3 linked regions of the Homo sapiens genome follow. The protein of the gene in region 1 purifies or fractionates together with the protein of each later gene. This does not show direct contact. Each region holds a gene or a part of one and is shown on either strand. Other genes may lie near its edges.

Evidence for each region.
Region 2: the proteins of WBP2NL (region 1) and ANKRD40 purify together in Homo sapiens (affinity purification with mass spectrometry; one large-scale study listed by BioGRID and IntAct). This does not show direct contact.
Region 3: the proteins of WBP2NL (region 1) and MGA purify together in Homo sapiens (affinity purification with mass spectrometry; 3 studies listed by BioGRID and IntAct, with this or other methods). This does not show direct contact.

The regions. Positions count from the first base shown.
Region 1 is NC_000022.11:42,019,181-42,022,834, forward strand, and holds part of WBP2NL (postacrosomal sheath WW domain-binding protein), read left to right. Parts: intron 1-130; coding exon 131-239; intron 240-464; exon of another isoform or gene 465-481; coding exon 482-623; intron 624-823; coding exon 824-916; intron 917-3,068; coding exon 3,069-3,176; intron 3,177-3,654. UniProt on the Homo sapiens protein: May play a role in meiotic resumption and pronuclear formation, mediated by a WW domain-signaling pathway during fertilization.
Region 2 is NC_000017.11:50,697,915-50,701,568, forward strand, and holds part of ANKRD40 (ankyrin repeat domain-containing protein 40), read right to left. Parts: intron 2,803-3,654; coding exon 2,654-2,802; intron 1,980-2,653; coding exon 1,485-1,979; intron 1-1,484.
Region 3 is NC_000015.10:41,663,330-41,666,983, forward strand, and holds part of MGA (MAX gene-associated protein), read left to right. Parts: intron 1-3,654. UniProt on the Homo sapiens protein: Functions as a dual-specificity transcription factor, regulating the expression of both MAX-network and T-box family target genes. Functions as a repressor or an activator.

The sequences.
Region 1 (3,654 bases):
ACTGCACTCCCGCCTGGGCAACAGAGTAAGACTCTGTCTCAAAAAAAAAAAAAAATTGCGTTAAGAACTTTATGTGTGTCATTTTACATACATTCTTTATTGTGTGCCGTCTGTTCCTCATTTTCTACAGTCTCTTGAAGCGGTCTCCGAATGTGGAGCTCTCCTTCCCACAGCGATCAGAAGGCTCAAATGTCTTTAGTGGTAGAAAGACAGGAACATTGTTTCTCACTTCATACCGGGTAATTTCTACTTCTACTTTAATCTGCTGATTAACTCTACATTTGTTTTCCTTGAAATGAAGAAAACTTAAACATTGACTTTTGAAGTGTTTTTAAACGTGCGCTTTGGGATTTTCCACACTGAAGGGTGGTGGAAGAAAAGATGATGTTTCTCAGTTAGACCAGAATGCACCTTGCTCTTGTAAGTCTCAATCCATGGACAAATTCTGCATTCCTTTTCCAAAGTTTCTGTCCTTGCGTAGGTGATTTTCATAACTTCATGCTCCATCAGTGATCCCATGTTGTCTTTTATGATGCCATTTGATCTGATGACGAACCTCACTGTTGAACAACCAGTATTTGCTGCAAACTTCATTAAGGGAACTATTCAGGCAGCTCCATATGGTAAGTGTTCCCTCAGAAGTGTGTATTTTTTTTTCCCTCAAAATCTTCTAAAAGGTTTAAGATTCAAACTTGGCTCATGTTGAAATTCAAACAAAAGCTGCCCTACTTTGTCAGGTAGTGCTTCCCTTGGTGTTTGTGGCAGTCTTTCTGTTGTCAGCTATGCCAGTTTCTTGGTGAGTGTGTGCCATTTCTTCCCCCAGGTGGCTGGGAAGGACAAGCTACTTTTAAATTAGTCTTCAGAAATGGAGATGCCATTGAATTTGCCCAGTTGATGGTGAAAGCTGCCTCTGCTGGTAAGTGATGCTGATAAAGATATTAAGCACTTTGGGGTTTTTTGTTTGTTTGTTTGGGTTTTTTGTTGTTGTTGTTGCTGTTGTTGTTGTTTTGTTGTTTTTGAGACAGGGATTTTTGTATTTTTGTAAGTCGGGGTTTCACCATGTTGCCCAGGCTGGTCTCGAACTCCTGAACTCAAATGATCCTCTTGCCTCAGCCTCCCGAAGTGCTGGGGTTACAGGTATGAGCCACCATGCCCAGCCCACTTTGGGGTTTTAAGGCTTGTGGAATTAAAGCAGGACTTCTACTCAGCCAAGATTTGCTGGCCTTTGTGGCCAGGCAGTTGGTATTCGCACACATATTCAGCAGGCATTTCCTGGGCCTACCTACAATTGTCAAGTACCATGTTACAGGGTAGGAACACAAAGATTATTCAGTCCCTTCCTATCCTGAAGGAGCTTGCAATCTAGTGGGAGCTTACAGCCAGACACCCAGGTGACTAATTATACCTGATAGTCTTTTGTCCATTTAAACACTGACCTCAGATATCTACTGAGCGTCTCTTCCTTGGGTCAGGGAGCCCTTAGTTATTCTTTCTTTGGTGTGGCTTTTTAGTTTTTCTTCTCTCTGGACTTGCCTTTGCTTTTCTCAGGTTTAGTCCCCATCTTACATGAGAGGGGAGTAGAGGTACTGTCAAGACTTATAGCACTGATCTAATGGATGTACCACAGAACTCTTTCAAACTGTGACTACAAATAATTTTTTTATCTCATATATGTGTGTGTGTGTGTGTATATATATATATATATATATATATATATATATATATATATTTTTTTTTTTTTTTTTTTTTTTTTTTTTGAGACAGTGTCTTGCTTTGTCACCCAGGCTGGAGTGCAATCATGCAATCTTGGCTCACTGCAACCTCCACCTCCCGGGTTCAAGTGATTCTCCTCCCTCAGCCTCCCAAGTAGCTGGGATTACAAGTGTCCACCACCAAGCCCAGCTAATTTTTGTATTTTTAGTAGAGACGGGGTTTCACCATGTTGGTCAGGCTGGTCTCGAACTCCTGACCTCAGGAGATCCACCTGCCTCAGCCTCCCAAAGTGCTGGGATCACAGGCGTGAGCCAGCACGCCTGGCCGGTCCTTGCGATCTTTAACCCATGGCTTCCATGGCCTCTTTGTACAGCCAGCAGAGAAGGAAATAAAGATCTCCCCTGGGAAATTTTTATGGGCCAGGCCTGGAAACTGTCTACATTACATCTGGTCACATGCCATAGGCAAAACTCAGTGTGGTAGGCTGATAATGGATCCCCAGATATATCCCCATCCCAATCCTCAGAATCTGTGACTGTTACGTTATTTGTAAAAAGGGTGTTTGTAGACGTAATTAATTTAAGGATCTTGAGATGACAAGATTACCCTAGATTATTTAGGTGGCCTCTAAATGCCATCACAAGTGTTCTTATAAGAGAGATGCAGAGGGGAGACAAGACAAAAGTGTTTTCTTCGGTACCACACTTCCTCACATTGGTCTTTAATGGATATATCTTACCAACTTGGTAGAATCCTCACTTAGAAGTTTTTTCTGAATATCTGTTATGATTAGGTGCTATGCTAGGCCTGGAATAAGCACAGGCAAATGAGATACAATCTCTGCCCTTAAGACACGTGCCATTCAGGACAAGGGTCATATTTCTTTTCTTTCTTTCTTTTTTTTTTTTTTTTTTGAGACAAGGTCTTACTCTGTCACCCAGGCTGGAGGCTCCAGTGCAGTGGCACAGATAAGGCTCACTGCAGCCTCAAATTTCCAGGCTCAAGCAATCCTCCTGCCTCAGCTTCCTGAGTAGCTAGGACCACAGGCATGCACCACCATGCCTGGCTAATTTTTAAAAAATTTTTTGTAGAGATAGGGTCTTGCCATGTTGCCCAGGCTGGTCTTGAACTCCTGGGGTCAAGCAATCCTCCCATCTTGGCCTCCTAAAATGTTGGGATTACAGGTGTGAGCCACTTCACCCAGCCCATGTTTCTTTTTTATCTTGTGTCTCAAGAGCATTGTTGGAAACACATGTAAGGTGGTGATTAAATACTCTGTTAATTGTTTAGTTGATATCTGCTATATATCTGACTTAATTAAAAGAGTTCCTATTTTGCCAAATTTGTCTTTCCAGCTGCCCGAGGATTTCCACTTAGAACCTTAAATGACTGGTTCAGCTCTATGGGAATTTATGTAATTACTGGGGAAGGGAATATGTGCACTCCACAGATGCCTTGTTCAGGTAAGGTATGGCAGAGAGGTTCTTCCTGGAAGGTGGAAAATTATGCCAGAGGCTCAAAGATCTATCCCTTGCAGGCTTGCTCCCTGCAGGAGCAGCAGCAGAGCTTTAGGGGCTTGGAAAATGGTCACATCTGTGACTTTGTTTCCAGACTGAAACCCAGTGGCAAAGTCAGCAAGTGACTGGGCTTTGGTTTCAGGCTTACTTTTAATGATATATACAAACCTGGAACATACTTGGCAATCCTGTTAGTGGGAAGGGTCACTTCCTGTTTATAGCCTGAGCAGAAAATATATGCTCTTGCCCACTTCCTTGTTTCCATTTCACATAGCATAGTCATCATACCTGTGCCACACCCTTCAACCTTACTGAGGACTCGAGCCCTGGGTCCTTTAACAGTTTGTGTTGTTAAAGTCCACTGCTACTGAATGGGGTTTCTGGAAAGTAATTCTCAAACATGGTCCACTGCCTACTGGTGGGC
Region 2 (3,654 bases), on another chromosome or scaffold:
CCCTATGGCATTTGACTGGATTTGGAAGAATCAGGATGAACTTGTGGTTTTTAATATTTTTAAAAAGTTATACATAGAGAAATATTGATATCTTTCCTGGCTATGTCCTCTCAACGGGCCTAGAAGAAATGATATACCTGTAGCAATGAGGACACCTAGTGACCACATCCTGGTGTCTGAATACCATTCTCGGTGGGCCCAAGTGGGAGGCAAGTTTGCTGTGTGCCCTAAATACCATTCTCCACCAAAAAGAACCAGGGCTTCTTGGAGAAATGACTGATTCCAGGGTTGGGGCAGGAAAAGTTATGCTATAAGCCCGGAACATCTTGCTGCCCCAGAAAGTAAGGCAGTGCTCCAAGAACAATGAAGACACATGCAAGGGACATAAGAACTAGCTTCAAGGGGCTCCCACTGGCCAAATCTGGGATAATTTGAATAATTAAAAAATGATAGTAACAGATTATAACCCACTGAATAAAATAAGAATATATGAGTCAATACTGATATGAATGAAGGAGAAGGGAAAGCCCTTCTTTACAGTAAAATACCAACTAATAAGTAGAGAAAGAATGATAGAAAATCATATCCCACAAAAATAATTGGCCTGGACTCTTCAAAAAGATCAAGATCAAAAATGATAAAGGGTAAAGATTCCAGATTAAAGGAAACTAAAACAACGTGATAACTACATGCAACATATGATCCTGGGCAGGATGCAGGGGGCAGAGGAGTACAGATAGTCCAGATAGATATCAATAGTACAGATAGTACTATTTCTGTAATAGTACAGACAGTACGTATAGTAGATGAGGGAATACAAAAGGCAATGTTTGAGACAACTGACAAAATTTAAACATGGTCTATGGATTACAGAACAGCATTAGCTCAAGATTACATTTCTCAAATTTGGTCATTTGTACTGTAGTTATATAAGAGAATATCCAGCTGGGTGCGGTGATTCACACCTATAATCTCAGCACTTTGGGAGGCTGAGGCAGGCAGATCACTTAAGGTCAGGAGTTTGAGACCAGCCTGGCCAACATGGTGAAACCCCATCTCTACTAAAAATACAAAAAAAAAAAAAAAAAAAAAAAATTAGCCAGGCGTGGTGGCATGCTCCTGTAATCTCAGCTACTTGGGAGGCTGAGGCAGAAGAATCACTTGAACCTGGGAGGCGGAGGTTGCAGTGAGCCAAGATCACACCACTGTACTCCAGCCTGGGTGACAGGGCGAAGCTACGTCTCAATAAAAAAAAGAGAGAATATCCTTGTTCTTAGGAAAGATATAATGGAAAGAATACTGAAGGGTATCAGGGTAAAAGGGCAAAAGGTAAACAATTTGTGAATTTGAGTAAAGGGAGTTCCTTATGTTAGTCATGTAACGTTTCTGTAAGTTTGCAATTATACCCAGAATACCTCATTAAATCCCACCCCTCTGGACACCAACTCCCCTGTTGCAGAGGCTGTTTGCTGATGAGGGGTTACCTTGCATATTAAATGGAAATGCTCCAGTGAAGAAAAATGGCTGGAATGCTGGCGCTGGTCCTGCATACGTCCCATTTTGAGGCTCCAGAGACATTGGTGGCTTGGACGGGACAGAAGAAAACAGGGAGCGGCTCTGACTCACTGGTGGCTGACAAACAGGACCCGGTTTTGTGCTTTCTGGTGTTCTGAGTATGGCAGAGGGGGCCGACACATCACCATTCTGAACTAGTGCCAAAGAGGTGTGGTCCCGGGGAAAGGTCCCTAACAGGGGAGGTTCCCCAGGGGGAAGCAATGGAGGTGAGCCATCTGCAGGGGGTGATGCAGGGGGTGTGGAGGGGCCCCCATTCTGCATCTGGGCTGAATCCTCTGCTGTGGGTGTATAGATAAAAGGGAAGGCTGGGTTGGCCAAATAGTTGGGAACAAAGGGCAGTTCTGACTCCTTCTTCAGCTGGGGGAGGTTGTCATCATCATCATCATCATCATCTTCTTCTTCCACTTAAAAAGAAGAAAACAGAACATTTACACAGTCCTTTCAAAATTATCAAAACAAGGTGTCTTTTGAAAGTGGTGTCTTTTGGTATGTGACATTGGTCAGTGTCAGGTCAGAAGAAAAAAGAATACTTCATTAGGTTTATGATTACCATTTTTATCATTATCTTAAATTTTACAAATAAAAAAATAAAACCTTACAATGCTGACCTCCCCAGAAACAATCTGGAATTACTATCTTGGCACAGTAATTTGCTTTTAGAAATAGAACAGTTGCCGGGAGCGGTGCCTCATGCCTGTAATCCCAGCACTTTGGGAGGCTGAGGCTGGCGGATCACCTGAGGTCGGGAGTTTGAGACCAGCCTGACCAACATGGTGAAACCCCGTCTCTACTAAAAATACAAAATTAGCGAGACGTGGTGGCACATGCCTGTAATCCTAGCTACTTGGGAGGCTGAGGCAGGAGAATCACTTGAACCTGGGAGGCAGAGGTTGTGGTGAGCCGAGATCACGCCACTGCACTCCAGCCTGGGCAACAAGAGCTAAACTCCGTCTCGGAAAAAAAAAAAAAAAGAAAGAAATAGAGCAGTTGTTTGACCAGCATTAAGAACGTAGCCAATAATACCACAAGTCTTCAATGAGTCTGAGGAAATCAAAAGTTCCCCCAAACACAGACTCACCTCCCATAATCTTCCTGATTTCTCTCCTTGATGTTAACTGGACTGGCATTTCTCCTTTTGTGGTAAGAATTTCTTTGTCAGCTCCTGATTTTAACAGGTAAGAGACCACCTGACCATGGTTTCGTTTACATGCCCAGTGTAAACAAGTCCTGTACCAAAGAAAATAATGATTGAAAAAGAGGAGAAGTGATTTTGGATTTCAGATTCTAAACATTAGTAAATAATGTATAAACAAGCCTGTTAGAGTTCAGCTAGAACCAGGTAACCGGGCTGGTAATCTCAACTTTTCACAAAGCCGATGAGCAAAATATTTAATATGCTTAAATTTTGTTTTTAAATTTCATTTCTGGCTCCTGAGAAAAACTAACTTAACCTAGGAGTTTTAATTTCAATAGCCTCCAGAAGGTAAGCTCACTGGCTGGCTAACTCCAATGATACCGTGGAATATACTCTATCAGTATCGCTCATTAGATCATCTCAGTCTCTGAAACATATTTTTCTATTGCTATATTCCTTTTCAGGGACTATGGAAACTCACTTCATATGCCACCTGAAGATTCAATATTATCAGGATAATAACCATCTCCTATCAGCAGCTTGCTCTGTCACTTAAATTATTATTATGACAGCAGATATTCTTGCCTGAATCCCAGTTGCTCACTTTCTTTTTCCTTCTTACTTTTCTTTCCTTAACACACACACAAAGGATTTCCAAATTTCCATTTTTAAAAAGTTGGCTTCTCTAGTTCTCTCCAGAAGGCTACAAACATATCCTCATCTGCGTAAATGTAAGGCACTGCACACATACTTTAATTCCTGAGGTACTTAAAAAATATACATCAACAACCAAAATTCTTCACGAACAGGTTCTTCTAACATATCAGACTCATTTAAGTAAAACTAATCACTCAATATTGTACACAGAGGAAGCAATTCTGCACACTCTGAAGGGCTACTATTTTAATACTGTACAGAAACATAATTAGCATGCCAGCAAAAAC
Region 3 (3,654 bases), on another chromosome or scaffold:
AAGCCGAATTGAAAGTTTTTGAATGTTAAGGTATATATATACCAAAATTGTGGTTTTCATTAAAGCTTTTAGTTTCCCAGAGTATTTTTAGGATGTTGCTAGAAGATTTATTTCTTCATGAGTAGCCTACCCTTTTCTTTTCTTTATTATTATTATTGTTGTTGTTGTTGTTGTTATTATTTTGAGACCGAGTCTCACACTATCTCCAAGGCTAGAATGCAGTGGTGCTATCTCGGCTCATTGCAACCTCCTGCCTCATCCTCCCGAGTAGCTGGGACTACAGGTGCGCAACACGACGCCCGGCTAATTTTTTGTATTTTTTGTAGAGAGAGGGTTTTGTCATGTTGGCCAGGCTGATCTTGAACTCCTGACATCAGGTGATTCGCCCGCCTCAGCCCCTCAAAGTGCTGGGATTACAAGCGCGAGCCACCGCTCCCGGCCTAGCCTACCCCTTTCTAAAGTACATTTGAGTTTTGCGGTTGGCTTAAGTAGACTTTAGAGTGGTCTTGGTGTGTCTGAAACAGCTGAATATCCTTAATTGACTGCCCTTTGATTAGAAAATTCAAATGTTTTACAATATTTATCTTAGAAAAAAAAGAAAATTCATATGGTAGCTCCAAACCTAGGCATATGCTTATAGCGAAGTGGAATCTGTGCCTAGATTGATGTAGAATAAGAATTTCATTCCATGTTCTTAAACCAGTAGCTGTTATGGCTCAAGATAGAGATGGTTTTAGTCATAAATTAAGTCTTTAATTCAATGCATTTTCATCAACTAATGGATTAATTTGATTAGTGGAGTTAAAAAACCGGCCTTATACAAATCATAAGTCAGAAGTTTATTTTCCTGTCTTCAGGCACATTTTTACATTTTTTTATTATATGCCTGTGCACAAAGTTGAAATAGGTTGATATGACTTCTCTGCACTAATATTTTGCTTCGGCAGAAAGAAAAACTCAGTGTGTGTATATAAAGTTAGTGTAAAATTTACTTCAAGTGCAGTCTGATTTTCACCAAACTGGGTTTTTGTCAACTGCATCTTTGACATTTCATAGATTAATCTTTAAAAGACAGTAATTTTTAAAGAATTGGTTAAAACTTCTCTGTCTTGGTTTTACTGGTAATGATCTGAAAACCAAAATTTTAGTTTATAGAAAGATGTTTAATAAATTCGGCACCTTTTCATGTAATTTATAGGTTTGGGATAACTAGATTTTTTTTCATATACTTCTTTGCTGCCTTAGTCATATGAAATGCACCTAAGGATGTTGTGCTCACGTGGAACACATACACACAAAGGATGTTTTGCATACTTATTCACAAAAATAGTTGGTGATTTGTAATAAAACCTTGAAGTTTATGAATTAATAAGTACAAGCTAGGAGTTTGCATTGTTTGAATTATACATCATTGTAGAGGTATTTTTTTTTTGCCAGTTCTTTAAGCTTTAATATTTTACCTTATTTGTGACTTCCGTTTAGTTTTGTTTTGTCAGTCTCTGATAGGTATCGCCTAAGTGTGTTAGTTTTAGAAAACCAATCAACTTCATAGGTAAAAGCTTGAGGCAGCTTTTGAAAAGAATCACTGTACATTTTATCTCTTTTAAAAATAAACTTCACATCAGAGGAGAGATTTTTTGTTGTTGTTGTTCCTGACCTTTCCTGATATTAGTGCTTTAGTGTTGGGAAGTGAATTTCTATTTTTATCTCTAGTCATAATAGGAAACAATAGTAAACCTTTTGAAGTCGTGATTTTAAAAATATCTATTATCTGTAGACTAACAGATATTTTAAGCTTTGGAGCTGTATGACCAATCTTGTAAGAAGAGGTAAAATTCAGATTAGGTGCTTTTGCTGCTCATCATTAGCTCTGATGAAAGGTAAAATACTTTTTAATTATAATGAAGAAGACTAATAAGTGGCTGAATTTGATTAAGATTACTGACCCACTTACACAGGAGTGGTGGTGATGTAGCATCTTCCTTTTTGTATAAAAACTGGAAGCTGTAGCTTTAATTTGGCATATGAGTTCGGTTGATTTTAGCAATCAGATTTCGTTTTGGTTTTTTTTTTTTGAGACAGGGTCTCACTCTGTCATCTAGACTGGAGTGCAGTGGCACCATCACAGCTCACTGCAGCCTTGGCCTCCCCACCCCCAGGCTCGAGGGATCCTCTCACCTCAGCCACTCAAGTAGCTGGGACTACAGCTACACACCATTGTAGAGATGGAGTCTCACTGTGTTTTCCAGGTTGGTCTCAAACTCCTGGGCTTAAGCGATCCTCCTGCCTCAGCCTCCCAACGTGCTGGCATTATAGGCATGAGCCACCATGGCCGGCCTCATTTCTTTATTATAACTTTTTATTGAGATATAATTCACATAACATATAATTCATCATTTTAAAGTATACACCAAAAAGAAATCCCACACCCATTAGCAGTTAGTCCCAGTTACCCCTTCCCCTGAAACCACTAATCTACTTTGTTTCTCTAGATTTGCCTGTGTTGGACATCTCATATAAATGGAATCATACAATATATGTGACCTTTTTCTTTATAACCTTTAATAATTAACTAATTTTAACTTTATTTTTTATTTTTTTAAAGAGACGGGGTCTCACTCTGTCTCCTAGGCTGGAGTGCAGTGATATGGTTATGGCTCACTGCAACCTGAACTTCCAGGGCTGCTGAAGGTGTCCTCCTGCCTCAGCCTCCTGGCCACCATACCTGCTATTTTTTTTTTTTTTTTGGTAGAGACTGACTGGCTATTTTGACCAGGCTGGTCTTGAACTCTTGACCTCAAACGTTACTCCCACATGGGCCTCCTAAAGTGATGGAATTACCGGTGTGAGCCACTGCACCTGCCCACCTGGCCTGTGTTTTAGTTTTTAAAGGTTGTGTGTTCACAAGACACAAAATTTACAAAGTGTAAAAGGGTATCTTTTCCAAGTCATCAAGTTTTCCTTGGATATGACCAATACTACTGTTTTCTTTTCTGTCTTTCCAGAGATAGTCTGTGTAAAGCAAATATGTACATGTTCTTTTTCATTCTTTGGCTTTTTATTTATTTTAAAGACCGAAATACTGTCTATTTCTTTGATTTTAAAAAGGAAAAATCTTTTACAAGGGTTGAAAAACTACCTATCAGGTACTATGTTCACTGCTTGGATGATGGGATCATTAGAAGCCCAAACCTTATATTATGCAGTAGACTCATGTAAACAAACCTGCACGTGTTCTCCCTGTCTGAAGTTTAAGAGGTACAATAAAAAACTTTTAAAAGATGTGTGGCATAATTTACAACTCTTCTGAACATTTTACGCTTAATATATCTTGTAGATACTTTTTGCATGCATTCATTAAGCTTATACATTCTCTTTTGTGACTGTTAACATTCCACTCTATGGATGTGTCATCATTTGTTTTACCATTTTAAGGACTTCTCTCTTCCTGTCTAGTCTTTTGCTGTTATAAGTGGGAATGCAGGGGATAATCTTGTATAGATATCATTTATCACAGGTGTGTGTATTTAAAATAAAGTCCTATAGTGGGTTTTAACAGTGAATTAAGAAAACTTAAAGTCCTGGGAACAATTCTTTGTCATAGGATGATATATGGATTTGTACTTTTGATATTTTCAAGTTGCCCTCTCTTAG